Regions from separate parts of the Homo sapiens genome. Here regions 1, 2, 3, 4, 5 and 7 are each reported to be linked to region 6. The links are microRNA targets in miRTarBase. Many come from high-throughput screens and were not tested one by one. Region 6 holds a microRNA gene; each other region holds the end of a gene's coding sequence.

Evidence for each region. The annotated mature microRNA hsa-miR-7157-5p reads UCAGCAUUCAUUGGCACCAGAGA and lies in region 6 at 2,608-2,630, opposite strand. An mRNA with a match to its seed (bases 2 to 7 or 8) in the 3' UTR can be bound and repressed. Matches are read on the target gene's strand: a 7mer-m8 pairs with bases 2 to 8, a 7mer-A1 pairs with bases 2 to 7 and ends in A, and an 8mer does both.
Region 1: the mRNA of B3GAT2 is a reported target of hsa-miR-7157-5p. Seed matches in the 3' UTR shown: 7mer-m8 at 1,234-1,240.
Region 2: the mRNA of CAND1 is a reported target of hsa-miR-7157-5p. Seed matches in the 3' UTR shown: 7mer-m8 at 1,844-1,850 and 7mer-m8 at 2,607-2,613.
Region 3: the mRNA of ESS2 is a reported target of hsa-miR-7157-5p. Seed matches in the 3' UTR shown: 7mer-A1 at 2,607-2,613.
Region 4: miRTarBase lists GPR61 as a target of hsa-miR-7157-5p. Seed matches in the 3' UTR shown: 7mer-A1 at 1,506-1,512.
Region 5: miRTarBase lists SREK1 as a target of hsa-miR-7157-5p. Seed matches in the 3' UTR shown: 7mer-m8 at 3,742-3,748 and 7mer-A1 at 1,023-1,029.
Region 7: miRTarBase lists FHDC1 as a target of hsa-miR-7157-5p. Seed matches in the 3' UTR shown: 7mer-m8 at 2,297-2,303 and 8mer at 3,022-3,029.

What each region holds. Positions count from the first base shown.
Region 1 is chr6:70,857,807-70,862,150 of GRCh38, forward strand. It overlaps B3GAT2 (beta-1,3-glucuronyltransferase 2), which reads right to left. Exons shown (of 4, transcript NM_080742.3): 3 at 4,024-4,172; 4 at 1-3,943. The coding sequence ends at 3,857. It overlaps SMAP1 (small ArfGAP 1), which reads left to right. Exons shown (of 11, transcript NM_001044305.3): 10 at 116-423; 11 at 2,394-4,197. The coding sequence ends at 2,528. Among named protein-coding and RNA genes, the nearest start is that of B3GAT2, 97 kb to the right of the region's middle.
Region 2 is chr12:67,312,298-67,316,641 of GRCh38, forward strand. It overlaps CAND1 (cullin associated and neddylation dissociated 1), which reads left to right. Exons shown (of 15, transcript NM_018448.5): 15 at 309-4,344. The coding sequence ends at 533. Among named protein-coding and RNA genes, the nearest start is that of CAND1, 45 kb to the left of the region's middle.
Region 3 is chr22:19,130,406-19,134,749 of GRCh38, forward strand. It overlaps ESS2 (ess-2 spliceosome associated protein), which reads right to left. Exons shown (of 10, transcript NM_022719.3): 10 at 1-4,070. The coding sequence ends at 3,791. TSSK2 (testis specific serine kinase 2) reads left to right here and starts at 903. Exons shown (of 1, transcript NM_053006.5): 1 at 903-2,217. The coding sequence starts at 995. The coding sequence ends at 2,071.
Region 4 is chr1:109,543,942-109,548,277 of GRCh38, reverse strand. GPR61 (G protein-coupled receptor 61) reads right to left here. Exons shown (of 2, transcript NM_001393907.1): 2 at 1,018-4,336. The coding sequence ends at 3,900. Among named protein-coding and RNA genes, the nearest start is that of GNAI3, 2.5 kb to the left of the region's middle. RefSeq lists enhancers at 77-136, 4,049-4,336 and a silencer at 1,651-1,887.
Region 5 is chr5:66,178,298-66,182,641 of GRCh38, reverse strand. It overlaps SREK1 (splicing regulatory glutamic acid and lysine rich protein 1), which reads right to left. Exons shown (of 12, transcript NM_001077199.3): 12 at 1-3,923. The coding sequence ends at 3,774. Among named protein-coding and RNA genes, the nearest start is that of LINC02065, 29 kb to the left of the region's middle.
Region 6 is chr2:140,584,056-140,588,399 of GRCh38, forward strand. MIR7157 (microRNA 7157) reads right to left here and starts at 2,630; the gene lies at 2,571-2,630. All of the region lies in intron 43 of LRP1B (LDL receptor related protein 1B), which reads right to left. RefSeq lists a silencer at 2,409-2,458.
Region 7 is chr4:152,975,798-152,980,141 of GRCh38, forward strand. FHDC1 (FH2 domain containing 1) reads left to right here. Exons shown (of 12, transcript NM_001371116.1): 12 at 1-3,874. The coding sequence ends at 926. Among named protein-coding and RNA genes, the nearest start is that of FHDC1, 42 kb to the left of the region's middle.

The DNA of each region.
Region 1 (4,344 bases), not on the chromosome of region 6:
GGAATTAAAATGTTTGCTGTGAGTAGTTCAGAAAGGCAATTTTTCTGTGATTATAGAGATGAGTGCAACTACACGTGATAGCTCTGTCTTCATTCATTTTCTTTTTGTGGTGCAGGTGTATTTATGGGACCCACAAATATACCATTTACCTCACAAGCACCAGCTGCATTTCAGGGCTTTCCATCGATGGGCGTGCCTGTGCCTGCAGCTCCTGGCCTTATAGGAAATGTGATGGGACAGAGTCCAAGCATGATGGTGGGCATGCCCATGCCCAATGGGTTTATGGGAAATGCACAAACTGGTGTGATGCCACTTCCTCAGAACGTTGTTGGCCCCCAAGGAGGAATGGTGGGACAAATGGGTGCACCCCAGAGTAAGTTTGGCCTGCCGCAAGCTCAGCAGCCCCAGTGGAGCCTCTCACAGGTAGGGGTCATTTACTTTCTAGCTTCTCCCAAATCAAACCAGATTTATTTTCTAAATCTTTTTTTTTTTTTTTTTTTTTTTTTTTTAAGTCTAGTGATCTGGCAGAAAGAATTCAATAGGGATAATATGTTATAGGGTCAAAAGTATCTATAAATATTATGAAGTTGTATCAGATAGACAAATGATGTGTTATTATCGCTATTTTAGAGTATTCTGTAAAAAAAAGGTTAAACATCTTTCATTTCAAATTGTAATGTAACTGTAACGTGAACACCACTAATGGCCAGAAATTATCTCAGGCATCATGAGACTCCCTCTCTGTCACCTCTGAGATTAGCACTAAGCTTTATCCAGCTTGCTGGTGGGACATTTTTACAGTCCACTTAGACAACTTAGCTTCACTAATAATTTTAGGATCTTTTATTAGAAAATAAAAATCTAGCCTCATATTCTCAAAGCACTATTTTATGAGGGATCTAAGGCTATTTTTCAGGTCGGATGATTACTGCCCCATGGCTCTGTAAAAATTCTTTTTGTTGAGAAACCTTTGTAAAGTTGTATTTTCTTTTTACATACCCTATAATGACTTTTATGTTTAAAAAGAGTACAAAAAGATTCAATTCCCATAAGGTGTGAACCAGACATCCCCTCATATTATAAAATCCTATTTCTACCTAAGTTAGAGCTGAGATAGAACATTTCTATTTCAGGTGCTGTGTTCTGACTTTTCTCTAGCTGCACAGACAAAGGCTCTTAGAGAGGTTCATGCTCCCACTCTTCTTCCTTTTACACTTCCCATTGATGTTCCTCCAGCATTTTGGCAATCTTGGTTTCTGTTTGGTCACTTGTTTTACCTTTAGAGCATTCAGGGAATAGTCTAGAGTGATTTCTAACATTAGCACAATCACTATATATCACAGTTAATTTTGCTACCACCATTTACAAGAATATAGGTAAAACATTGGTCTCTACCCGCTGGGAATCTAAAAAATTGTATGTGCTAAGTGTCAGTCACATGGTCAACATGCTGAAGCACACCCAGCTCAGGTTAAGGTGCTAGATGAACCAGGAAGGAGTTAATACTGGCTCTTACTTCCAGATAATGCAGAAGGGTGATGCTGTTCTCCAGCACTCCATCAGTGCAATCTACTGGCCAATGACAAGGTGGTTAAAATGTCCTTTAGTAGGTATGAAGACGTGATCTGCTTCTTCAGACACTTATGCCTGATTAGTGATGTAGTTTATGTTAGTGTCTTTGAAACTGTAAATAAGTCAAGTCAAATGTATTAAATTAAGAACACAGTCTAACTCTGAGTGTAAGTTTTAAACCCACTCACTATATGGTAAATCTTGCCTTTCCTTCTCTTATCACCAATTTTGGAAGTAAGAGAATCACAGGGTTAAGATGCTTATATATATATATATTTGACTCCAGTCTTGAAGAAAAATACATGTAATCTTATGCTTTATTGCATACAATGAAAATAAATTTTAGATGTTTATGTTGTTAGATCAGCGAGAGAAATAAATGCTTTATGACCACTTTAAAAATATTTAGGAAGTATATAAGATTTTAATAGAGAATAATATCTATCATACAAAGTTTATAGGATAATTTTAGACTATTTTACTTCCTAAAATTTTCTTACTCCTTAGTAGTTAAAGCACAATATCCTAGTGTAGGTGAAAGTTAGTTAGAGTAGCGGACTCATTAAAATCCCAAGATTGCTTTGGTATTTTTTTTTAAGTAAGTTGTGGTTAATCTTTGGGGAAACTGTATCTAGAAAGTAGATAAAGAAGGGAACAAAGTAGCTATTTGCTTTAAGAAATATTTGTATGGTACTCTGTTTTTATTCCAGTGCTTGGACTAGTTGTCACATTAATGAAAAAATGACCAACTGTGTGGCTAAAGAAACAAGAATTAAAAGTGAAGTAAGCCTCTTGAACTAAGCCTTTTATATGTTTCACAGATGAATCAGCAGATGGCTGGCATGAGTATCAGTAGTGCAACCCCTACTGCAGGTTTTGGCCAGCCCTCCAGCACAACAGCAGGATGGTCTGGAAGCTCATCAGGTCAGACTCTCAGCACACAACTGTGGAAATGAAAACTGCAATACAAGTTTCATCCAGAACTACCACCTGACATTCCTTGCTGAAACGCATCTAGTTCCCCTGTTTATTCATATGCATATTTTTTTTCTTTTTACCCATTTGTTCATATTAAGAATGATCTGATTGACCGTGTTGGTCTGTACTGATTCAATTTGATGTGGTGAAAAGCAGGTTGATAAATCATTTTATGTCAAGGGCAGCTTTGCTCATATTTCCCATGATTTCATGTACTGCATTATTTGAGAAGCTGCTCAACTTGCAAAATCAGTTTTCCTCTCAATAAAATTATAGCTCTAATGTTTGCATATAAGGGAAGTAGTTATCATGTTAGTAATACCTCTAATAGTATAAACCCCACCCCAAAATTAGCCAGTAATCCTGTAGGAAGGTACTGTATGATCAAATGTTTAATCATATAAATAGAATGTAAATGTCTCACTGAGCACTGTTTTCTAGTGTATCAAAATGCTCTTATTTCATCATTCACTTCACTGTGCTGTTGTTATGATGTGCTTAACAGGGAACGTGATTAGTGAAAGGAAGATAAACGTGGATGTTACTCCAAAACTTCGTTTAATGAATGCTTAAAGAATTCAAATTTTATCTGCCTCTCTTGTAATTTGGATCTCTTCTTAATGTACATAGTGCTAACATGAAGACCTTTTTCTGCACTATATGCAAACAGGGTAACTAACTAAAACAAAGCCACTTTCAATCTTCAATCCTTGAAGGTATATCTAGGTTTATGACAGTAATTGTGTTTACATTTTATGGTGCCTAGTATTGACAAAATGTTATTTCCCTACATTAAACATGACTCCATAGACCTTTTCATTTGTGGGTTTTTATTTCCTATGATGTATACTGCCACTAACCTTCCAAAAATTACTTAGTATTGCAAAGTCAGGAATCATCAGGAACGTTTAGCTGACAAAATACTTGTCTGTTTTAAAAACCTGTTCAAGTCTACCAACCTGTTCAAGTCTACCAATTATAAGGGCAAATTGGAGAAAAAGAAAAAATATATACTCAAGAGTGGTATCTTGCAGTATCGGCACTGTACAAAAAAATCTTCCAATTTAGTTGTTGTAGAGAAAACATGCAGAACAAATGAAGACAAAACATACATTTTGTACCAACCATCCAATTAGCTTATGTTAACTGACAAGCTCCATTTAAACAGATGTCCATCAGATGACAAGAAAGGCTGCTGTACTGAAGTAAAACAAACAATACCTGAATGCTCTGTAGCCTAAACTCCAAACATCCTCTTCCATATGGATCCACTGGCTGGACAAACTGCACCAGTTGCTGCTTCAATTTATACCTCAATTTTCACTGTGTCCAGGTGGTACTTTGGCTCGTTGGCTAGATTAACCTTCTCTGTCCGAGTGTGCCACACGAGAACCTGAAGGGGAAGGAAATAGCTTGGGTAGCGCACTCTTCATGGTGACACTCGAGGTCGGGCAGCACAAGTGTAATGAATACCTTAGTGCAGTTATTTGCTTTCGGTTCCAGTTCTTCGACTGTTGTTATCTGTTTGAGAAAGTCAGATTCTTGCATCCCTGGCTGGGATCCACGACGCTTAAATACAGCTTTTGGATTGGACAAAATGACTTGAAGACTTACAGCAAATCCTTTGTGAAAAATAAAAAAAAAAAAGAGACTTTAAAATCCTGGTGTACTTCTCTTTTTTTCTGTATAATTTTGGTCACATCAAAACAGTTTTTAAAATACCTACTGTGTGTCAGGTCTTGGTTTACAAAGTTGAATAGGAACATTACCTGTATTACAGTCTCAAAGGAAAAT
Region 2 (4,344 bases), not on the chromosome of region 6:
TTGATGGGGGCTAAAGTGTGAGACTTGCTAAGCAGATAGTTGAAACAAAGAGTGTCCTACTCTCTTTGTTACAATCATTTGGGTCTAGATTTTCTGTTTTTATAATGGGGCTTTGTGTAAAATATTCCCTTAAAAGAAAAGGAGACAGCTACTTTAAAAATAAGTTTAAAAACAGTTGTTCTTAGAATGTAATATGCCTTATGGACCTACGAGAGTAGCTTTTAGCAGGAAGATCTTATGTGCTTAAATTTTGTTCATGTAAGAGCTGTCTTTTATAGCATGTAATCTAAGTTTACTCCATCTTACAGGTAAAGGCAAACTCAGTAAAGCAGGAGTTTGAAAAACAAGATGAATTAAAGCGATCTGCCATGAGAGCAGTAGCAGCACTGCTAACCATTCCAGAAGCAGAGAAGAGTCCACTGATGAGTGAATTCCAGTCACAGATCAGTTCTAACCCTGAGCTGGCGGCTATCTTTGAAAGTATCCAGAAAGATTCATCATCTACTAACTTGGAATCAATGGACACTAGTTAGATGTTTGTTCACCATGGGGACCATTACATATGACCATACAATGCACTGAATTGACAGGTTAATCATAAGACATGGAAAGAGAAGTGTCTAAAAGCTTCAAAATGTTCCACTTTTTTTTCCTTCATGGAGACTGTTTGTTTGGCTTTCTTCCATTGTTGTTTTTGTAGCATTTATTTCAGAAATGTGTATTTCCATAATCCAGAGGTTGTAAAACCACTAGTGTTTTAGTGGTTACAGCAACATTTGAAATGGAAACTAAAAGTTAGGATTTTATGGAGTATGGAGATAGGGTCCAGTATCTATTTACCCTGTAATGTTTAGGATTAAAATGTTAAAATTTTGTGACCATGAATTTCTTTCTTTTATAAATTTTCTCATTTAAAAATCAAAAATCTTGCAAAACAAAAACCATGTTTCTTTTTCTTGTATAACTTTTTGTTTTCAGCAACATAAATTGATTTTTAGCTGGCAGACAAGAATATCCATATAAGATTTGTTAACCATTTCAGAGAGTTTGGCAATTTTTAAAAGATAATAAGGTATCATTTTTAAGTATGAAAATTAACAATATCCCTGTTGCGCACACTAATTTTGCATGAGTAAGTTTACAAATATGTATCGTCTGTAAAGCAGCATGTGCAGATTATTCATAATATAGAAGTTAAAATAAGTATTAGTGCAATTTTCAGATATTTATTTTTGCACAGAAAACACATTATCTGGAGAGAAAGAAAGGAGAATTTTTGAGACTTGGGTTTTCTTAATGCCAGTGTGAATTTGCAGATGTTTTCAGAAAATCAAGTCACAGTAACAATTTGCCACTTTTTTCTATTATAAATCTTCTTACTTAAATTTTGAATATTTAGTTTTTCTCAGTTACCCATTTGTGTGTGTGTGATTCCACTTAGAAATTCTTAAAACCAGATTTTTCTTTCATTCCGTTTGGATGTCTACATTCCTTATCAAAGGATATAAATACTGTGTATGCTTTTGAATTTTATTTTTAGGAAAATTCTGAAGCCAGCTATCACAGGTTTGTTAGCTAATAATAGTATTTTCTTTTAGTTGAGTTAGGTTTTTCCCCATCTCCTGTAGAGCGAATTTACATATTGTATTGGGTAAGTGTTCACTACTTTTCCTGATTAAGGGATCTGTGCTGGGGAACAAAGCTTTTGCAGTACCTTATATTGTAGTTAAAATTTTATTTAACATATCCTTCAGTGAGCTCATTTCACACTGTAGCCTCTTCCTTAAAATTTGTGGTGCTCCTGTAACAGTAAGAACTAATTCTGAAATAAAAGACATCTCCTAATGCTGTGCAAACATAGTTTACATGTATTGAAGGAGGCAGTTGTTAAATTGAGTGACCAATTTAAGCAATCAGATATTTGAAAACTGCACCCTTTAGTTTTGAAACTGTGAATTAGAAACACTTTTCCTGCTGTATTACTACCTGCTTTAACATCCAAATATACAGTGATTTTAAATGATAACATACTGTGGTTATTAGATTAACAGCTTGATTTTGAATGTTCAGATGATAATGCAGAAGACATCACTTCTAGTAAGGATTTTGACTAGTGCATTGATGTTGAAGTTGGTGCCATTTCAAAATGTGGCAGGTGATAATCTTTTACCATAATTTGCATAAAACTGTAATAGAAGTTTATTTTGAGATGTTAGTATATTATGTACTATGCATTTCTGTGGTATAGATGTTGTGGATATATTTAAGTATTTGGTTACATGGTTTTACAATAAATTACAATACTGCAGGCTCTAGGACTGAACAGGAGACTGACATGCATATGTTGTGTGAATGTCTTAGTTGGGTAAAGTTAAATCCAAATACTTCAACTGGCTTTTTCTTCAGTTTGTTTGTTTTTAACTTTCAAGATGCATGTTTTGTTTTGTTTTGCTTTGTTTTTGTCTCTTAAGCCAATTCATTTTTCTAACAGTTGAAATTCTTTTAGTACTAAAGAAATAGATACTGCTCTTTTATGGCTTTAGTGTTTATATACCTGTTTATATGCATACATTAACAAAATTAGTAACAGCAGTGCTTAGAATTTCAATGCTGTGTCATACTGATGATTAACTCCATACTCCTAGTGGTGATGTGGTCCAGATACTGGAATGGAAGTGGCAGGATGTGGAGTCCAGACATAGTCTACCACTCATGCTACTTACTAGTAATATTAAGGTGTTAAACTTAGGAATTTGTCACATGTAGGTTCCTGAGGAGATCTAAAAGTTAATACAAAACCAAGCTGTTTACTGATTTTCATGAGAACATTTAAGTTAGTTTAGGTCTACCTGATTTATTTTAAAAGAAGGCAGAGGGCTGGACGCAGTGGCTTACGCCTGTAATCCCAGCACTTTGGGAGGCCGAGGCGGGCGGATCACGAGGTCAGGAGATCGAGACTATCCTGGCTAACACTGTGAAAACCCATCTCTACTGAAAATACAAAAAATTAGCTGGGCGTGGTGGCAGACGCCTGTAGTCCTAGCTGCTACAGCTGAGGCAGGAGAATGGCGTGAACCCAGGAGGCGGAGCTGGCAGTGAGCCGAGATCACGCCACTGCACTCTGGCCTGGGCAACAGAGCGAGAGTCTGTCTCAAAAAAAAAAAAAAAAAAAAGGCAGGAAGGAAATTTGGTATGGCAGGGCCTAACCTAAAAGGTTATTTATAAAATCAATAGCACTGAATGATAATTTTTTTAATGACAGTCATGTATTTTATTAATGATATCTGAAAGCTGCTTAACCATTAGGAATTACAATTCTTTATGGTTGGAGTATGATGATTTCATCAAATGTTTGAATATTTACATAATTTTTATGTAACCATAATTAAACCAAATTAGTCTTTTTTTCTTCATACTTTTCTTCGGTAAATAGTGAAGAAATAATGGGCATATCTAATTAACCAGTTCTAGTGGGTGTTGTGATATCTTTATATCTAGTTCAGTCTCAGATGTATGAATATGATTATATAGTCATGATTGAAGTTCAAAATGAGGAAGTATACAAAATCCTCAGCCACTGAAAAATTCAGTTAACTTGTTTATACTCCTGTAAGCTCTAGTTAGTCACAAGACAAAGTATATAGTAACACTTTGTAATGAAGTAACATTTTCTGCCCACATTAATTTTACTAAAGACCTAAATTGTTAAAATTAATTGCCAATCTCTGGATATATTATGCTTAGTAAGTGTTTTGAAATTAAAGACCTTAAACATTTCAGCAAGTAAATTTTGGATTCTAGCTCTGTTTTAAATTGAATCCTAATTTTCAAACCACTGCTACCCCAGATTCATACCTGTTTTTGAAATCTTGTTTATGGAATGGAAAATTGACAGTATGGTAATAGTTTATTGACTGATTGGACAAAGGATATTCTGGTTTTAACTGACTTTTCCATTTAAATAAAATTCATTTGATAATTTTGGTTGCAAAAGTGGAACACAGTGGAAGTATTTGGCTACAGGCTACCCAAATCTCATCAGATAAGGCTGTTTTCTTAAAGGAAATGCAAAATGAAATCATATGTTTTCCTTTTCCAATACAGTAAATTGCTTGTTTTCCTATGAATATCAGAAAAGATTTTGTAAACACCTTTGCTGTAGTTTCAGGCAAGATCTTTCAGCAACATGTTTTTGCTCTTTGTAACTTAGAAAGTTAGCTCTGAATCCAAAAACTACTGAAGTGAGTAATGCATATAATTTTACTTTTTTGGACCCTATAATGCCAGTGTGTCAGGTTTCAGAATGATATTTAGTAGACAGAAATACCTAATTTTGTTTTGGAA
Region 3 (4,344 bases), not on the chromosome of region 6:
CAGTACAGCAATCACCTAAGTCTACTGGTAACTAATTTTGTTCCAAGGAGAAGGTCAGAGGCAAAAAAAATGCTTGCTAAGTCCGATTAAAAGGGGCCCAGTGCCTTCAAGGCCTGTCTACTGTGGTACCGGAGTGATTATTTCGATTGTATCTCCTTTACAGCTTGGTCCAGAGAGCTGCCTTAGACTATCCAATTGATCTATTCAAACAGCTGCCTGTTCCCTTAACTTGTCTTCAGATTTTGTCGACCCGAGATGGGTCCTGGCACTAGGAATGTAAAACCGTTCCTATTATTTTGGCTTGCTCCAGCAAAAGAGAAGCCCATGCAAGGCTCCTGCTGACCATGTTTCATTTCTAGCTTTGATGTCTGGGCACTGATTTCCCTAGATTTAACTATGTGCTCAATGGTAAGGCAGTGCTGTGGAAATCTGTCTGTGTAACTGGGGTGCTATGCAGGCCTGTCTGGGTGACTGTCAGGGACAACTGTCCTACCACACCAAGGACACAGCCCTGGGGGTGCTTTTCTTCATAGCCAAAGAAGCTGCAGGAAACCCACCCTAGTGGGACAAAGACCAATGCAGGGTCAGTCCCCACAGCCAGGTGATGCAAACAGGCTGGACGTGGGCCGCCTCCCCTCCAGCTTGACTTGTGACAGGGAAACCAATGCAGCAGCAGCAGGGCCACCAGAGTCCTGTCCTGGGGACAGGCTTCCTTCCAGCGGGCGGGGAGTGGGTGCTCCTGCCAGACCAGCCTGGCTTCCACGGTTCCAGAGACCCTGTTCTCCCTCAGCCCAGTCCCCGCCCCCACTCCTTGGCTTTATGAGTTCATTGGCTGAAGTCACCCGGAGACAATGCTGAGTGTTCCACCCCTGAGTCGAAGCCCAGCCCAGGGCAGCCCAGCCAGACGCCTCCGGTAGTGTAAATGAGGACAATGCCTGCTGGCCCACATGACGGGGGGATGTAGACGGCAGCGGCGCCAGTCGCTCCTGGCACCATGGACGATGCCACAGTCCTAAGGAAGAAGGGTTACATCGTAGGCATCAATCTTGGCAAGGGTTCCTACGCAAAAGTCAAATCTGCCTACTCTGAGCGCCTCAAGTTCAATGTGGCTGTCAAGATCATCGACCGCAAGAAAACACCTACTGACTTTGTGGAGAGATTCCTTCCTCGGGAGATGGACATCCTGGCAACTGTCAACCACGGCTCCATCATCAAGACTTACGAGATCTTTGAGACCTCTGACGGACGGATCTACATCATCATGGAGCTTGGCGTCCAGGGCGACCTCCTCGAGTTCATCAAGTGCCAGGGAGCCCTGCATGAGGACGTGGCACGCAAGATGTTCCGACAGCTCTCCTCCGCCGTCAAGTACTGCCACGACCTGGACATCGTCCACCGGGACCTCAAGTGCGAGAACCTTCTCCTCGACAAGGACTTCAACATCAAGCTGTCTGACTTTGGCTTCTCCAAGCGCTGCCTGCGGGACAGCAATGGGCGCATCATCCTCAGCAAGACCTTCTGCGGGTCGGCAGCATATGCAGCCCCCGAGGTGCTGCAGAGCATCCCCTACCAGCCCAAGGTGTATGACATCTGGAGCCTGGGCGTGATCCTGTACATCATGGTCTGCGGCTCCATGCCCTATGACGACTCCGACATCAGGAAGATGCTGCGTATCCAGAAGGAGCACCGTGTGGACTTCCCGCGCTCCAAGAACCTGACCTGCGAGTGCAAGGACCTCATCTACCGCATGCTGCAGCCCGACGTCAGCCAGCGGCTCCACATCGATGAGATCCTCAGCCACTCGTGGCTGCAGCCCCCCAAGCCCAAAGCCACGTCTTCTGCCTCCTTCAAGAGGGAGGGGGAGGGCAAGTACCGCGCTGAGTGCAAACTGGACACCAAGACAGGCTTGAGGCCCGACCACCGGCCCGACCACAAGCTTGGAGCCAAAACCCAGCACCGGCTGCTGGTGGTGCCCGAGAACGAGAACAGGATGGAGGACAGGCTGGCCGAGACCTCCAGGGCCAAAGACCATCACATCTCCGGAGCTGAGGTGGGGAAAGCAAGCACCTAGCATGACAATGGCCCCGTTGTGTGTGGTGGGGGTCGGGGTTGGGGGGCATGGTGCAGTCGGCCTTCACGTAAACTAAGTAGGCAGGTAGGATCTGAAGAAGGCACAGGTGCAAGTAAAATTCGTCAATTAAACCACTATTTTGATTACGTTCCATTAGCTTTCTTCCACTTAGCAGCAAAGACGTTCCTTACTGACCACCAAATAAACCACAGGGTGTGTGCAAGCATCAAGAGTGCCCAGTGAGGAGTGTTTTTCTCTGGGACTCAGCCAACCGCCCCACCTGACACACAGTGGTCTCCGGCCTAGGAGCACAGGACAGATGCTCAGGTACAGGCAGAATCACAGTGTGGCCTGGCCTTGTGGGGGACAAGAGGGCCTCTGCCAGGGTCCACCCACCAGGCCCACACTGTCTCCCTCTGACCTGGCCTTGTCCCCAATGCCCTGGGGCTGGCCAGCTCCAGTGGTCCACGACTCCCCCTGGCTTCCTGCAGTTCAGCCCCCTCTGACCTACCCCCACTCCCTCACAATCCCTCGCTCAGCATCCTCCTCTTCCTCTATTTCCTGGAGTCATGTGAGATTTCTGTCCTCAGCCCTCAAGTTCCCTGCCCTGTCCTCCAGGGGCAGCCCCAGCTGAGACCTCCCCGTGTGCCCTCCCCACCCAGTGGCTCTTCAAGCTGCTCAGCAGCCCTTGATGATGGCACACTGGCCGGTCTTTTGTGCTTCCTGCTGGGTCACCCATTGCTCCCAAAGCATGCGGCCCACTTGCTGGCCAAGTGCTCCAGGTGGTCAGCACCTAGACATGCTCCTCCCCCCTCCCTCCCCACTTCCTGGGGGCTCCCTTGGGATAACGTGCACCCTTTCCTAGGGGATAAAGCACTGAAGGCCCCACGTCCCCCACCCCTTAAGAGTCCCAGCCTGATCTGTCCAGCAACCCACTGTTATCTGGGAGCTCCTGTTGGTGGAAGTGACCAGGTGAGGCCAGGGCCAGCAGCATAAGATGGGCAGTGCCTATAGCAGAGGGGTGAGTGGGATAGTCCCACCCCATGAGCTGGAAGCCAGGTGCTGGGAGAAGGTGATAGCTGAGATCACCTGATATGCAGCCCCCACACAGTCCTATAACCAGCGCACCTCACAGCCGGCAAGCCCAGAGTGGAGGCTGCAGACCTGGGCCCAGAACCGCAGGGGAACCTAAGGGTACAACTTCCAAGGGCTCCGTTTCTCCTTCATATCCCCCCAGAGAAGCAGAAAGCACTGCAGGATGTGAGCTCAACTCAGAACACAGGTTCCGAGTGCCGCAGAAAGCAACGCCAGTCACCCGGTGCTCCCACAGCCGCCCCACCTGCAGCTTCCTCACCTGGGGGGCCCCTCGCTTCAAGCCCCGCAGTCCTGAGACGTGATGCAGGCCCCAGGGCAAGGCTAGGGCTCGTGTGGGGAGCAAGATGGAGAGGCAACCCCCCAGACTGTACCTAGGTGTTCTTTAATGACAGTTCAAGGGGCCAATTAAACAGCAAACAGCTTGGCAAGGCCCTGGGGTGTGGTGTGGGCACGAGTGCCTTGTGCCAGTCTGGCCCCAGCACAGCCCCTTTCTCCAGTGACTCCTGGTATGGTCAACAGCTTCTGGCCCAGGCCTGGGCCCCGAGAAGGCTGGAGTCCTCTGCTGGGTGTACAGCTGCCCTGCAGGCTCTGTGAAGCGTCTATGAGCCCAGCCCAGGCCTGGCTCTAAAAGAAGTCCGAAGCTTTGCGCCGGGCAGGGAGCTGCAGCAGGTTGTCCGTGATGGAGGCCGGGTCCTGTGTGAGAGGGGTGCGTGTGGCAGAGCCAGGCGCCGGTGTGCTTGTGGGGGTCTGCAGCCCACTGGCCGGGGTCTTGAGGTGGGTGGAGCGTGCTGGGGATGGTGTGTAGCTGGCCCGCAGGGCCCGGTCTGTGTACTTGCTGGCCGTCCTGCTCACAAGGCGCTGTAGGGCTGGCGACATGGCTGGGCTCAGGCCTTTGGGGGTGAGGCTGGGGTGGAGGAATGGGTGAGAGAGGCAGGGTTAGGTGGGCTGAGAGCTGCCGGCAGCAGGGCCTCCCTTGGCTCCCAGGAAGAGCCTGGGCAGAGACACAGTCACTCTGAGCTGAGGAGGATGGTACTGCCAGCATGGCAGCAAATGCGGGGGATCCCTGAGGTCAAACAGCAGCGCTCAGGTCAAACCTGAGGTCAAACAGCAGCACCGCCCTTGGCTGTGGGGGCTGGGGTGCACCCCCAGGCCTCTGAGAGTTGGAGTCCCCACCCCTC
Region 4 (4,336 bases), not on the chromosome of region 6:
GCGCGGGAATATCTGCTGGTAATTTCTCGCCTGCCAGAAAACTCCTTTGATCTCTGGCTGTGGAGACTCGGGACCCCTACCCAAGTATGGGACACTGCCTCCGTTGGGGTTATCTCAGATCAATGGAATGGGAACAAGCTATCCGGCCTGGGCGCCGTTCACGTCTCACATCTGAGATCGTAACACCGACTGTGCTTAGGACCTCAGCAATAACTTTTTGCCGTCTCTGGCCCACTGACTCCTCTCAAAATGTCCCCTGGTCCTTTTGCTATTCACGTATTTCTGTGGGCTTGAGATTTGCTTAACTCCTATATTGGCAAAAGGCCACTTGAAATCGCTAGCAGATACTCGATAACCTGAAAGGTAAGCCTGTAGTTCCTCCATAAAATTTCCATGCTGCCCTTCTCTCCAGTATAATTCAGATCTTCCTACCTTAGGGTCTTAGAACTAAAACCAAGATAAGTCAACTTCAATTCCACACCCCGAAACAAACCAGTGCATCCTGTGAATCTCCTACTAAAATTTCCTGTTGCGATAACATGCAAAAGGAGAGGTTCTAGTAAAATTTGCCTCTCAGCCCTAGTATCACCTGAAACTTAAGTCCACTGTGAAAGTCCCAGGCAGATAGCATCTTTCACTAATAACCCTGGATACTGCGTGAAGGTAGTCCTAAATCAACTTTTCAGGCAAATAAGCCCACAATTACTATACGTTCTAGCGAAGGGAACTCAGTCCCTAAAACCTTTCCCTGTGATTGTAAATTTATTTCTCTAATAGAATCTGAACTTGAGAAAGTAAGGTCCCAACAGAGAGGTTTATATAGTGATGATTCATTAATTAGAAGGATTTAATTAGAGGATTAGAGCCACCTTAAAAAGCCTCGTCCACCTTAACTCTTAGCAATGCCAATTCTTCAAGGTTTGAAAAGTCCCCCAGTCATTCCCAAATGACTGTTAAGAATGAAAGGGACTGCTTTTCCATTATCAATACTTTTGGGGAAAAAGGGCAAGAGGAAAGGGAAGTAAAACCAGTATTTATTGAGTACCTATTTGCCAGATACGGCTAGGTGCTCCCACATCCCATCTCTTAATCCTCACAACAACCCTGTGAGGTAGGTAATAATGATCCCCATTTTTACAGGTGAGGAAGTAGGCTCAGAGAAATTAAGCAGCTTTCCCAACTTCACACAGTGAGTAAGTACATCTATCTGACCCCAGAGTTACCCTTTTCTATCATGCCCCCGTAGGATATTGCCTGGGGACACCTGACAACAGAAAGTCTAAGGTTTTCATCTAGGATTGGGAGTTACCCCAACACCAGCAGGATGCAGGAAAAAGTAACTGACCGGATGGTTGCCTCAATCTGTTGATTCTTCAGTGAGTTAGCTCAGATTTTGTCCAGGAACAGCTTTCAGAGCCAAAGATTACGTATTGAACTTTACCAAGGCATCTGGTGACTAGAAAACTCCTGGAAGGTGGTCATAGCAGAAATTGTTGGGAAAGTTCTCAGCATAATAAAAGAGAAATTTTTATTTCCTTCATGATCCACTCCTACAGGGAAAAATAAATGGCAAATGAACCCATGTATGTCAAACTCTGTAATAAACACCAGTGAGATCACAGTGTCAGGAAATTTCAGCCTGAATTAAAGATACCCTTGCTCTTAAAACTTTCTTCTTTGATGTATGTGAAGGAAGGGCTGGAGGGCAAAGTCAAAGGAAAAGGCAAAATAAATTAACAAAATGGCTGCCAGGCAATGTTTAATGCCCTCCCCTTCCTCCTCCCACCACGTACACTCGCCTTTCCTCCTTCCATTGGGCTCACACTGCCACCTGCTGGCAATTCCTTGGATCTAATAGCTGATCAGTGGTGTTTGAAAGAAGAGTTTTTTCCCTGTCTAGGAATGATTGATTCCTCTGTATGCATTTATTTTAATAGGGAGGAGAGGTGAACATGTTTTTCAATCACAAAGGACTCTCCTCCCTATATATACTATGTTTTTAGGGAACTTCCACAATGTAATAGGCACTAGACTGGTATAATAATCTAGTGGTAGGAAGACAACCTAGAAATTTTCCTAGAACAAAGGGGGAAAGCTGTTTGCCCAGTTTCATTTAATTTTTTTTCTTCATTAGAGAGTTTCATTTACAACCCCTATGCTTTCCACAATCTGCAGGAAGCTTCAAGGTATGCATCTTGCTGCCACGGGCTGAACTCTCAGAAGTTAGAGCCATGGACATATTCTCCAATATATTTCTCAAGCACATTCTGTAGTGCTTTATCAAATCAAAGTGCTTTGTGAAAATATAAGGTATCTCATCAACTTAGACTATGAACTCCTTAAAAGCAATGACCACACGCCCTGTGTGGGTCCCAGGGACTAGTGGGTGTTCAACTATTATGCACTGAATTGAACTAAAGGAGTCAATGTTGTTATCAGTATAACCTTTTATCATAAAAATTATTTATTAGCTGCTTAAATGGGAGACTATCCCACTCCCACCAGCCCATTTCCCCTTTTGATGCTCAGTGAGCCAGGAATTTGTTCAAATAGAGACCACACCACCCTCTGGCCCTGCCTTGATCCGTTAGTGTTACCTGATTCAATTGAGGGAAGTAGGATGGACAGGTGGTCCCAGATGGGTGTCCTGTCCAGTTTGCAGTTATTCCCTGTTTGTTGAAAATACCACCACCAATACCAACCAACACAGTTCCTACAGTCTCAATCAATGAACAGCCAAGACCAACTCCCGTGCCCTCTCTCCAACCCAGTGCTGCAGATAGGAGAGAGATTTAAGTCTTTGTCACTGAAGCTAATTTTGAGAGCGATGAATGGGAGTAGGAAGGCATTTAATGGATCATGGAAACCCCACCCTTCCCATGCCCAACCTTAAGTCTCTTGTACCCGATTGTCCAGGGGACTGGAGGTGGGTCGCTGCCATGAGGAGAGAGATCAGGGAGGCCAGTCCTGGAAAGAAAAGATTCGCAGTATTATTGATCAGGCTGATTACCTGGCCTCTCTGTTTCCAGCTACTTTACCAATTCAAATGCTAACCTCCACCCTCGCCCGTCTGACCCCCAGTCATTCTAATTCTTCCTCCTAAAAGAGAGGAAAGCCATCCTGCCTTATTCTTGTCTCTGCTAAGATCAGGCTCTACCCTTGATCTCCTGTGTGCAGGAGAGAGACAGAAAAATAGAACAGAAGGGCTTTTCCTGAAGGGTGGGAGAGAGAGAGCTGCAGTCAGCTTTCCTATCTTCTACTCCATGTACCCTAATTTCTATTTTGCCTTGTTTCTGGCCAAACTCAGTAAAGGAATACACCCTACTGGTCCTCTCATTTTAAGGAAATCTCAGGTATAAAACCAGAAAAATGATCTATTAACTCAAGTGGAAACACTTGGCTATAATTTAGTTCTTTTTAAACCTAGCAAGGAAATGAGAAAACATGGGTCATTTTCTTACCTTGCTTGGGTGCAATTACTGCCCTGGACAATTACACTGAAAAATAAAATATCCTAAATGGCCCCTAGAATAACTCCAAACCTGGCCTGCTGCCCTGTATCCTCCAACTCCTACCCTTAGAGAATTCCCTGCTTCTGGAAGCATGGAAATTTCACCAATTGAGAGGTTTCACCTCACCTTTGTGACCCTTTTCTCTCGTCACCGTCTCACCATACCCAGGTTCCCTCCCCTAGCAGTCAAAGATCACAGCCAAGTCCAAGGCTTTTGCACACGTTCATCCTGTTGGCTCTGTTCCTGACCCAGGAAACACTAAGCAAAAGCTGTGTGCAGAGACCCCAGCCTCAGCCCTAGCCAGCTGGGAAAAGGTGATCCCACAAGGTGGTCCTTGCAATCATAACTGGCCCCAGCCCCATATCCCTCCGAGTGTCCAGCGGCCCATCATGACTCCAGCCGGGGTGAGGCGGCAGGACGGAGGTAGCTGTCTGACATGATGATGTCGCTGGTGAGTTGCTGCTCCAGGAACTCAGAGGTCTCCTCAGCTATCTGGCCTGGGATTCGAAAGTCAACAGCAGGTGGCTCCTGCTTGGGGCTGGGTAGGGGTCGGGAAACCCAGGACTCAGAAGGACAGCCAGTCCCCTGAAGGAACTGCAGGAAGTTCTCCTCAATGGAGCCCTCCCGGCTAGGCAGCCTCAGCTCCTCCTCTGGAGCTGGCTTGAAGAAGCAGACAAACTGCTTGCTGAGCTCCCCCCGGATCTGCCGGTTGAGACATCCATAGAAGAAAGGGTTGGAAGTGAAGCAAAAGTAGCCAATCCAGGTGACCACACTCTCCACCTGCCCAGTTGAAATGGGCTGAGCACTCAGGGCAACATAGAGGT
Region 5 (4,344 bases), not on the chromosome of region 6:
AGTGAGCCATGATCGTGTCACTGCACTCCAGCCTGAGTGACAGAGTGAGACCCTGTCTCAAAAAGAAAAGTAATAATAATAATGTATTACTCTTCAGGCAAAACCACCAATAAGAGTGTACTAAAAACAAACTCACCCACAAACCCAAGATTAAGTAGGGAAGTCAATTTTATTTTAAAATTTTATTACATTTATACTAAACTCCTGCTTCCAGAAATATAATTTAGCTCTTTTAAGAGCACTAGCTTTTAAAATTTGAAAATAAACATCTAATTTTAAGTGAAAATTACATTAGTAAATAAACATGAGAAAATAATATATATGTAGTGAAAATAAAAAATATTTAAACACAAGAAACATGGGCACTGCACATTTACTTTGTGGGAATGGCTCTACTTCGTAACGCACCAGTTGAAATCAGATACTGTCTTCCAATGAAAACGTAAATGATTCACTGAAATTATAAGTTATTCAATGCCATCCCTCCAAAGGGATTCATTTTAATTGTTAATTCAACAATAATTAAATCATGCTCTTTATTTCTAACAGATTAAAAAAAAACTTAAAGGCCTATTACTCTACATTATAATTCTTGAATCTACACAGTATCTTCACTTGAGAAGGGAGTTAGATCAGGGTTCTAAGTTTTAAAATAAAGATAGCAACATAGACATAGGAATGACTGAAGGTCTTGAAAATTATTACTATCACAAAATAAATTCTCTTGACCCCCCCCCCCCCGACAAAAAAACCTTTTCATTATAAACGCCAGTGTTTATTTTTAATTGAGCAGGTCAAAATTTAAGCCTCTGGCACTGCCAAAGATCAACATAGCAGGTACTGAACCTCGTGAAGAAAAGAACTTGAAACACAGAGATCACAAGCTGACTAGTGTTTGCAATTATAAGCTAATTAGATAGAAAATAACTAAGATGATAACTGCAGAACTTCAGGATTTAAAAGTTTTGACACAAAACTTATGCACTAGCTTATGAACTGATGCACCATCTTATGATACTAGTTCAGCATACGTTGCTGAAAGGCAACAGAATTTGTCTACAATGATAAATAGCAACTACAACTTAAGGAAGAGAGGGTACTCTATGTAATCAAGCTACAAAAGATAATTACAGAAAGTATGAAGCATAAAATGTCTGTCTTCTTGGCCTTACCTCAAGTTTATCTGACAACATCTACCTGGGATTTAAAAAAAGAAGTCTTAAAGAAAAAAACAAAATACCCTGAAAGAAAAGAATAAACAAATGAAAACATGAGCTCTTTTAAGTGAACAGAGAAAGTATGTCTCAAACAGATACACACGTGCGCATGCGCACACATGGACACACAAGCACACACACACATCCCTCTAGACCCTAGAATGCCTTGCTTCCATAAGCCCATGTAAAAAAAAAGTCAAACCCTAATAACAATCTGATTTGTTCCTCCAGATCTCTTGTATTCCTACTCATTCTTAGTTTTTACAAATCAGTGTTTCAAGATTATAGTACGATTATTTTAAAGCTTAATAAATATCAGCAGAGAAAATAATTAGCAGCAAGAACCAAATTAAATGTTAATTACCAACATAAAGAAACATGTAATAGGTCCAGAGTACAAGAAAACACTCATACTTTAAATGACTTGTTTTATAGACACCACACAAACATGCACTCTCCACGTCACAACAATCTCTATGACAACTAAAATGAGCAGGATAAAACTAAAATGCTTTTTTGAAATGCATAAACAAACATTTTCCTCTAAAATACTTAGCTTTATTAAAGACATGGTACTAAAAATAACAGATTCCAACATTTGCTCTATTTCTACTTATATATCATAAATAAGACAGCTGTTGATGCAAGACACACTCTTTCACAATCTTTCCATATGCACCCAAGCATTCTTGTATCAGAATAAGCTGTTTACCAGCCAACCGTATGTGGCTGAATGATTAAAATGACCATCTATACTTTACATAGTAAAGCATCTTCCAAAATTTTAATGTACACAGTGACAAAAAGGAAAAACAAACAAAAAAAACAGTAATTCTGAACACATGAAGAGTGATTAAGCAGCTTCATAATCAAATCAGGCTTCATTACTTGCAACAAGGGCAACTCTTTCCATTCCCCACTAAATACTAAAGTTTCAATCTTATTAACATTAAAAGAAAACTCAAGTTGAAACCAAGTAACTAACATGCTATTCAGCTTTTTAGATCTAAAAAAGTAACTCTTCCCATGAGGTAAGGCAACTGAGTAATCTGATTGTATTAGATTGCATTAAAATAATTATACTTAACTTTTAATACACTAATTAAAAGGTATTACTTTTTTGGAAATACAACAATAATGAGTTCAGAAACCACAAGTTATAGTACTGGGGAAAAACATTAGCAGTGCTGTCACTTTACTATTTGCATACTTTCTGTAAAAAGTGAGCCTAAGAATGATGGATGACCTGTATCTTAAACTCAAGTAAACGTATCCTTAAACATAAAACCAATAACCTCCCATATACTCCTAAGTCCTTAAGTACAATTTCTGCACATCATTTATGAAAAGATGATTGAGAGGTAATAAGGCCATCCAATGTAGACAACTAAAGGGTTTTCTTCAATTTAAGGAAAATAAGAACATGTTTCATTTTCAATTATCACAGTATAAAACTGATGGTCCCAAAGCTGCATGACTCTAATGTCATTCTTGAAAACAGGACTTCCTTCTCATTTTAGGTGAAATCAGTAAGAAGCTCTTCTGACATATCACTTACACACTTCTCTATGGGTATGCATGAAATATCCATCTAGATTCCATATGAATTGAGAATGACTAGCACATATAAAATTCTAGAAAACAGTATACCACATTGTAGAAGGCACTAAAGCTTCAGCTTGTGCTCCCATAGCCCATTTTGAAAAGCCAGTTTCCTTTTTTATAAGGGCACCTTTGCCACCTACAGCTGACAAGACACACTGCAATATTATTCATAATAAGCTTGGAAATGTCAAGAAAATTTAAAAAGAAATGCTCACTTTGTGGGTAGTCCCAATGATTCTAAACACTGAATACTAATTCATCATTATTAGTATTCAACACGGTTGCTCTTCCTTTTGAAAGAGAACAGTAGCATGCATTGTCAGTTTTTTAATCCACTTATTTAAGCAATTTTAATCTGCAAAACTATTTTAAAGAAAAATTGTCCTAAACAGTGAGCAAAAGAAAACACAATAGTGAGAATTTAACACAATCACAAGTCCTGTGAAGTAAATGTTAAAACTTCTTACATACTTTGCACTTACAAGGGTGTGTATATATTTGCACCAATTTCAAGCACATCATCAAACTGTATATATTGAAATAAAAAAAAAAGTAAAACAATACAAAATTCAGTAACTAGCATTTTTTAAAAGAGCCTCCAATGCTTATCTCCAGTCTTTAGGGATAGTACAAACTTGGATCTTTGATGTTCAATTTATTTGCAATGGTTCTTGGCAAACACTAACAGACCACATGACAAGTGTGTCAGCCACCATGGAAATGCACAGATTTTAGAAGATGAGTTTGGGTAACATCTGTTATTTTCATGATGTCCATGCTTTATTTTCTTACTCAATAACAAGATGGCCACAAAGTCATCTAACAACTGGAAAAGCTGTTAGATCCTATCTTCATGCTCAACTAGATTTCTTTCCTGTTTACATCTTGTTGAGAGAATTAAAAGCTTTGGATTTGATTCCAGCATTGAGTGCAGAGGTACACTTGTCGGTCCTATACTGCTTCTGTTTTGGTAGAGAGGTTTTCTTCATTCAGCTGACAATTCCCATTGTGCTGTATTTTGTTTTCCTCAGTCCTTGGTGCATCCTTGTCATCTACTTCTTTGCTCACACTTGAATCTGGTTCTTTATTGTGCTCTTTCTCCTACAATGAGTAATTAAGGTATGCATTTAATATTTTCCTCAAGAACTGCCTGCTATGACGACAAAAATGTGAAACTTTATCTTTTGCAAATTTAAAAAACTGGGTATGATTTTCTCTCATTACGTTTTCACACAAAATGAATATGCAAACACTATCAATTTCCCCTTTGTGTTCTCATAAAAGATGGACAATCCATGGAAATTAAATTAGAATTGGTGAACAGAAATTTTAAGCAAGTGCTCAATAAATGTTGCTGACAGACTTGAAAAACGGAGACAGATCTATTGAAAGAGTGAAATAATTTCCAAGGATGCCAGGATAGATTTTTAATCTGCAAACCAATGCAGCAAAAATAAGGAAATGTGGAAAAGGAAGTCACTATGCCTCCTGGAAAAGGCTGTTCAAGAGCACTCCAATTTCT
Region 6 (4,344 bases):
CTTTTTTATCATTTTAAATGTTCTCAGAGAGTCAAACACAGGGAAATATTGCCTCAAGCTCAAATAAATTCATGTTAGTTTTCTTATGTGTAAAACTTACAAAAAACACATTATAACCTGCTCAAGAACAATACAAAAAATAAGAAATTCAGAGAAGAGAAAAATTAATATAAGTTATTTGAGAATTTTATGAATTCAAACATGAAACTTTTAAAACTACTTTTCCTTTTATCTGCTCAATTATTTCACCAAAGGAAATATTTTTAAGCTTATTTGTATGCTTCTCCCTCTGTTCAGTTTGTAAGCAAAGTTAATTTGGAAGAAATGTGCTCATATATATATATATATATATATGAGCAGAATGGCTTTTGTTAGCTATCTGTTATTTTAATCTTTGTAGATGAATTTATACAATGAGGCAGGTAGGAGAGGTGGCTGCTGGCCTTTTGATAAATTCTATCTGATGCCTAAAAATTGAAAGTTTCTAGGAAATGTTAAATCAATCCATCAGTATCAGTATCTCATGCTGAAGGGACACCAGTTATTTTCTGGATGAATACACTAGTTGCCCTAGATACTGACCATTATTCTTCTGTAAGAACACATCTCTTTTCAGACAGTCTGGCTTCAGTAATACTTTAATTTGCAAGACTAACCAAGCTGAACCATCACTGAAATGTATGTGGACTTAAATCAAAGGAATTGTGTAAGAAATAAACACTATTAAGCCTACTGCAATATCATTCCTATCTTACTGGATAGGAATATCAGTTACCCTGGATAGCTGAGGCCTTCAAAATAGCAAAATTTTGATTTTGGCCTTTTCTTTTTTTTAAGCTCTTTGTTTTTTTCATTTTATTCAGAGCATCCTTTTTATAATTTGTCTTTTAGTTTATTTACTCGTATACTCATTTCTTCAGTGAATTTTGCTGAACATAGCAATGCATCAGACTTTGGGTATATTGCTTTTGGAGATACAAAGATGAAAAACAAATTGCCTTTCTTTAGATGTTATTATTCCTACAAAAGAGGAAATGAGGCAACTTATGATTAATTATATAGTTATCATTCATGTTTATACAAATGTGTATGTGTGTAGTGAATGTAGTTACACAATTTTAAACTTGGTTTATTTTTTAAATTTCATAATTCAAGGGGGGATTTACAAGAATTAACGTTTTAACTCCTCAAAATGCATCCTATGAGGCATAAACTATTAGTCATATTCTACAGCAGAAATTAAGGTGTAGAAGGATTAAGAAATGTCCTCGGCTTACTAAACAACAGGTCTTATATCTAAGTTTCAAATTCATGTCTAAACAATCTAAGTTTATTAATTTCTCCCACATCATACTGCTTCCTGAAAAGCAGTATGTTCTATTTTACTACCAAGACTGCCTCCATGTCTAAAATATTCAAGATGTGGCACCATCTTCTTATGTATATGAATGTGTTATAAAATATATATCAAATGGCTGATCTTAGAGTTGGAAAATAATTTTAAGTCTAGCCCAAAATGTCAAATCTGAGATTCAAAAAGATTAAAATAATTGCTCAAGATCACACAGTTTTTTTGAACCAGTCCAACACTGAAACAATGTTATCTAACACTAATTTTAGTTTTCTTTTCACTTATTTCTTATTCTCACTTAGACACCTATATTTGGCAATGTCATATATTCATATAAACTTTATTATATACTCTGTGATCACATCTACACATTATCATTAAAGACAATAAAATTTAGACAACACAATCAACCATCTTTATTTTCATAATCTTTATTTCCCTTAGGTGGAAAATCAGTGATTTCAATGTCTTTGGCCTGCAGCTCATGCCATATCATGTGTGTTTAATAAGTCTTTAATAAGTCTTATTCCTGTTTAAATTCATTGGCAATGCAAGGGCCTTGTTTTACAGACTTATAGAACATAAATCAGCTTAGATCTTTAAAAGTGTCTTTAAAAAAACTCAAATAGATGTTTCCCTTTTTTTCTATTCTGAATGTCTAAAAATCTATGAGCACACTAACTTATGCTCCTAGAAAAATGGACTAGACAGACATTTCTTGATCCTTATGTACAACTTAAAACTCTAGAAATTATACATAAAACAAACATAAGGTGACTATAAAAGTAGAGAGAAAAAGCAACCCAGCTGGGTATCTTGGGACCAAGAAATTCCATGGAAGTGTGTTTCCTAAGTGTCATTTTGTCTCATATATCTCAGACTCAAATCGTATAAGCTGGCAACCCAGAAATGGCAACATACACAGAAAAAATAAAAATAATAATCTGCTCTCTCTAGCTAAAAGACCAGGAAAGAAACAACCTAGCAAGCACAGCAGAAAACTTTACTATAGCCAGCCACCACAGGAAAAAGGCTGTGACACACCCACACCAGCAAAGGCCAAGTGGGGATCCTGGGCTTCCACACACCCCTGATGGTAATGAAGTGTCCACCCCTTCTCTGCTGAGGTGGTGTCAGAAGCAGCTCACTGGAGGGTCAGGACTTCCACCATCATCCTCTAGGTGACACTGTAGAGGCCATCTAGGTAGCCTGAACTCCCACTCTTCATCCAGTAGCACAGAGGAGTCCCAATTTCATCTCTGGTGCCAATGAATGCTGAATGGGGGACCTGCTACTCCGATAGGGTAGCACCCCTCACTTTCCCCTCCTAGACCGATGTCAGGGAAAGACAGTTAAAAACAGAAGGGTTGAAAATACGGAGATACATGCAGTAGAACATGTTCAAGTTCAAACAAAATTACTCATCATACCGAGAACTAGGAAGATTTCAAAGAGACTGAAAAAATCACAACTAATAGATGCCAACACCAAGATGACAGGGGTGTAAAAATTATCTGAAAAAGATTTAAAAGTAGCTATAATAAAATTTTTTTAAAAATAAAGGCTTTAGGAAAGAAATGGAAAATCTCAGTAAAAAAAATAGAAGAAAGAAACCGGAACAAAATGGAAATTTTAGAACTGAACGTAAAATAACTTAAATAAAAAGTTCAGTGAATAAACTCAACAGCAGAATGGAGGAAATGGAAGATGTGTCAGTAAACTAAAAAGTAGAATAATAGAAAATAGCCAGTCACAACAACAAAGAAAAAGCAGAAAGAAAGAAAACTGAACGAAGCTCCAGTGACCTGTGAGACTATAGTAAAAGACCTAACATTCATGTCAAAGAGTCCTACAAGGAGAGGAGAAAGCGTGGGGCTAAAAAGGACTTGAAAAATGTCAAGGCTGAAAACCACCAATCTGGCAAGAGACATATACCTACAGATTCGAGAAGCAGACTAAAGCTCAGAGACTATAAACCCAAGACGCATCATAATTTAACTTCTGAAATTGTGATTTGTGACAACATGGGTGAACTTGGAGTACATTATGCTAAATGAAATGAGCCAGACACAGAAAGACAAATACTTCATGAGCTCACACGTGGTATCTAAAAAGTCAGACTCTTATTAGTAGAGAGTAGAATAGTAGCTACCAAAGGCTGGAGTGAAGATGGGATGGGGAATAAGATGTTGGTCAAAGGATACAAATTTCCAGTTAGACACGAGAAATTAACTTTGGAGATAAATAGCACAAAAATTAGTAAGTACATGGGTGTTATGATTAACATGTTAATTAGCCTGAAGAATCATTCCACAATACATACATATATCAAAACATCACCTTGTACTCCTGAGATATACACAATTATTATTTGCTGATTAAAAATAAAAATAAACTTCTGAAAACTAGAGACAAGAAGCAAATCTTAATAGCAGCGAGGGGGAAATGACATGTTACATAGAAGAAAACAATTTTAATAATAATAGATATCTCATCAGAAATCACAGAGAACAGAAAGAAGTGGCCCAATATTTCTCAAATATGAAATGAAAACTGTCAACCCAGTGACCTATGCCAAGTGAAAATATCAGAAATAAAGAGAACATCAAAACAGTCTCAGATGAAAGGAAATTAAGATAATATGCCACAACAGATGGCAAAGAATGGACAAAAGGAATTTTCGAAAGCAATAGGGAAGTAAGCAATTAAAGAAGAAGCCTGTGAACATCAAGAAAAAAGAAAGAACACTGTGAGCAAAAATACGGGTACATAAAAGTAGGCTTTCCTTATACTGAGTTTTCTAAGTTGTTTGATGGTTGAAGCAAAAAAAATCTAACACTGTTGTGTGCAGAGTAAATCTTGAAGATAATTATATTACAAACAGGGGAGGCTAAAGAAACATAAAGGGATGTAAAGTTTCTATGCTTCGCTTTACTGGGTAAATGGTGATGCTTGTAGACTGATAAGTAATGAATATATACTGCAGTACCTAA
Region 7 (4,344 bases), not on the chromosome of region 6:
TCTCTGTGGATAGTGAGCCCAGCTGCAAGGGCGGCCTGCCCAGGGACAAACCCACCAAAAGGAAAGATGTTGTAGCACCAAAGAGAGGCTCCCTGAAAGAGGCGTCTCCCGGGGCCTCCAAGCCCGGGAGCGCCCGGCGGAGCCAGGGGGCAGTGGCCAAGTCTGTGCGGACCCTGACCGCCTCAGAGAACGAGAGCATGCGCAAGGTCATGCCCATCACCAAGTCCAGCAGAGGCGCCGGCTGGAGGCGACCAGAGCTGTCATCCCGGGGGCCCTCCCAGAATCCCCCCAGCAGCACAGATACTGTGTGGTCACGCCAGAACTCCGTGCGGAGGGCCTCCACAGGCGCCGAAGAGCAGAGGCTGCCGCGGGGGAGCAGCGGCTCCAGCAGCACCCGTCCGGGGAGGGACGTTCCCCTGCAGCCCAGGGGTTCTTTCAAGAAGCCCAGTGCCAAACCACTCAGGAACCTCCCCAGACAGAAGCCTGAGGAAAATAAGACCTGCCGCGCCCACTCCGAGGGCCCTGAGAGTCCCAAAGAAGAGCCCAAGACCCCGTCAGTGCCCAGCGTCCCCCACGAACTACCCCGTGTCCCGAGCTTTGCCCGGAACACAGTGGCCTCCTCCTCTCGAAGCATGAGAACAGATCTTCCTCCCGTGGCCAAAGCCCCCGGCATCACTCGGACAGTGTCGCAGCGGCAGCTGAGGGTGAAAGGGGACCCCGAGGATGCCGCTCCCAAGGACAGCAGCACTTTGAGGCGAGCCAGCAGTGCCCGGGCCCCCAAGAAGCGCCCAGAGTCTGCGGAGGGTCCCAGTGCCAACACGGAGGCCCCTCTGAAGGCCAGAGGGGCTGGGGAAAGGGCCTCCCTCCGTCGGAAGGACTCCAGTCGGACCACGCTGGGGAGAATCCTCAATCCCTTACGGAAGTGATGGGTGCCTGTCCTCTCCTGCCTCCTGGGATTCAGACGGTGAAGACTGACTTCTGGGACGAGGATGGGGAAAGAGGCAGCATGTCTTTGTTACAGATAAAGCAGCCACTGGTGCCACTGCTAGTGACGCTGTTGGGATGGCACAGTCCAGGAGGCCTGTGGACTGCAGCCTGCTGTGCTGAGCCCTGCTGCAGTCCAGCGTCCAGATGGATGCACGTTCACTACTGTGACGGCCGCACCTCCCCCATGCACCCCACCCTCCCCCAAAGCCCGGATCCCGAGAAAGATTTAGTAGGAGTGTAAAGTGACATTCTTATGAAACAAGTCAAAAAAGTTTTTTTCAGGCCAGTTTTTATATATCAAAGACTTTCTTTTTAATATAAAAATTAGCTAGGTGCAGTGGTTCATGCCTGTAATCCAGCACTTTGGGAGGCTAAGATGAGTGGATTGCTTGAGCCTAGGAGTTCGAGACCAGCCTAGGCAACATGGAGAAACCCCGTCTCTATCAGAAATACAAAATTTAGCCGAGTGTGGTGGCACATGCCTGTGGCCCCAGCCACTCTGAACGCTGAGATGGGAAGGTCACTTGAGCCCAGGACCCCACCACTGCACTCCAGCCTGGATGACAGAGTGAGACCTTGTCTCAAACAAAACAAAACAAAAATGAAATGTTCTAGTTTTGGTTCCTTTTGCAGAGTGAAATGCCTCCCAGGAAAAAAATACATATGTATTTTTTTGCGACAGGGTCGTGCTCTTGTCTCCCAGACTGGACTGCAGTGGCACAATCATAGCTCACTGCAGCTTTGACCTCCCAGACCCAAGTGATCCTCCCACCTCAGCCTCCCTCAGAGCTGGGACTACAGGCGTGCACCACCACGCCTGGTTAATTGTTTTTTTTTAATTTATCTTTTGTAGAGATGGGATCTCACTATGTTGCTCAGGCTGATCTCGAGCTCCTGGGCTCAAGTGATCCTCCCACCTCAGCCTCCCAAAGTGCTGGGATTACAGGTGTGAGCCACCACACTTGGCCAGTATATCCTCAGTATGAAGATATTTTTATCTTCCTGTGTTCTCTGGCTTCAGAGTTTCACCTGCCCACACAGGGTCCGTTGCTGGCAACTGGACTTCCCCATAAGCCTTGGGTATCCTGTGATGGGCTGTGTCTCCCTGAAGATTGTCTGGCTTGCCCACTTCTCCGTGCATGACTCTGGGTGTGAGTCTGTCTAGGAACAGGAGGGAAAGTTGGACTCAGACAGAAATCAGATGCTTCCATGTATTCAGGGCGCGCATTGTGAGCAGTGGAGTATGAGCCTTGAGGGCCTCATGGTTGCAGGGCAGGCTTCCCTGCAGATGGGTGGCAGCCCCTGGTAGAATGCTGGATTTCTCTGGAATCTAGAAGTGCCATATTTTAGTGGAAAGGCATCAGGGCTGTTTGACAGTGTGCGTCTTTCCAATCCCATGTTCCTCCATTCGTGTGTCTGTTATAAAACTGAGTGAAGGCTGCTATGACCTGTGTTCACTCTGGTTACAGGGAGGTGCAAACCATTCTGTCTCCCAGCCTTTCTTCTCTCTTTGTGTGCTCCCAGCACTTCCTTCTTTTCTAACATGGCCTGGAGAGAGTCTCTCTCTCCTTGTCTCTGTCTCTTAATAATAGTTTTTAACGTGGACATCTCTTCCTTGGTACAGTGGTTTTTAAATACTGAGAAGAACCAAGTCAGGTTTTTTAAAGCAGACTAAAAGCATGAAATTGCTTTCAGAAGAATGTATATCATCGGGAAAAGTTCGGGGGCAGAGTGGGGGAATCAGGCTTTATTCAAAAGAAACAGTTGAAAACATGGGACTTTTTCTACCCAATGCCCATTTCACGACTCCTCTGAGACTAATTGGGAAACGGGGAAATTCTTGGAATTTTTTTTTTAAGAAACTTTTTTGTGTTTTTTTTAATTTTAGGTCACTTATTAGTGAAACCTCATTTTAGATCTGACATTGGTAGATAGATGGATTTAGGCAAATATGATGCGTTTGTGGGGAATCCACGTGGTTGACGTTAGAACCTCCCTTCTGCAGACTGTTGCCTGTCATCTAAGCGAATTGGAAATGCTGAGCTTCCATAAGTCAGCTGAGTTTTAAAGGTAAACGTTATGGCTGAAATAGTAAAGCACCTGACCACAAAACCTCTTGTAAAAACAGCCCTGAGTAGGTATTTCCAGGGCTCCACAAAGTTGCTTATGGGAATCCTGAGCTGCTTTTCACCATCTCAAGAAGCCTAAGAAGTTATATATTTAATCAGGTAGACAAAACAGTTCAAAGCATAAGGTCCATGGTGGTGGAAAATGGATGCAAGTGATTCTAAGTTTGTGGATTTGTGGATAGCAGAGGGATCGGGACCTCTTGGAGGAACCCTGGGTACCAAGCTCCCAGGCCCTTCCTCTATCATGGATGCTGGGTGACTTTGGGAAGTCACCACCTCTTCCCAAGCCTGTTTCCCATATCACAGATGTGGGGCCATGGCCTCGATGATGGTCTCCACAGGTCTTTCCACCTCTGTGAGTCCAAGTCAGGTCAATCAGCAAGGACCCATCTCTGCCCTGGGTCAGCTCCTCAGAACCAACCCCCAGCATCTCTAAAGCAAAAGCCTCACCTCAAGGGCTGCTCAGAAGAGAGCACCTTCAGCATGAGTTGTTGCTGGAAGATCTAATAAGCTGTGTTTCCTGGGAAGTGGTGCTTTACTTAGCCCTGTGGACAACTTCTCTATGCATCTGTGTGAGCAGATGATCATTGTATTACCTTTTATCGGTAGTAAGCTTGGAAAAATAATTTAAGAATACAATGGAGAAATGTAAATAAGTATCTATGTAAATTTGTTTAAAATAAACTGAATGTATTTAATGGTCCATTTATATGTTCTTTTATGTAACATGTAGTTTAATAAAGTTCCTGTTTATGAGAGTCATGTTTCATCTCAGCTTCTTCCATGGATGTGTCTGTGTGATCTTGCTGGGAGAGTATTCAATTTCCTGCCCAGAGAGAAGCAGAGATCCAGGAGGCTAGGGAGGGTTGGGATACAGCTGACTTGTCCTCCAAAGGCTCAAGAGCCTAAATGAGGCTGTTGGCTGTGTGTCTTCTTGATAGCACAGAACCTGCTCATAATTGAGGGCTTAGGGAGTGGGCCTTGCCCCAGGCCGTGGGGATGTAACCCCGCCTCTGACACGCAGGCTGTCGATGAAGTGCGCAGCTCACGTTATTCCATGCTGAGCTGAGTTTTTTGTCATCTCCGTGGGCCTGGCAAGTCTAAATGGTGTCCTGGGTGTCCTGCATTTTGGTTCAGGACACCATTAGGAAATCACAACTCACCTCATGGCTGACTCAGGAATGAGCAGAGAGGAGGGAGAGATGGCTTGATATGACCGGCATTGTGC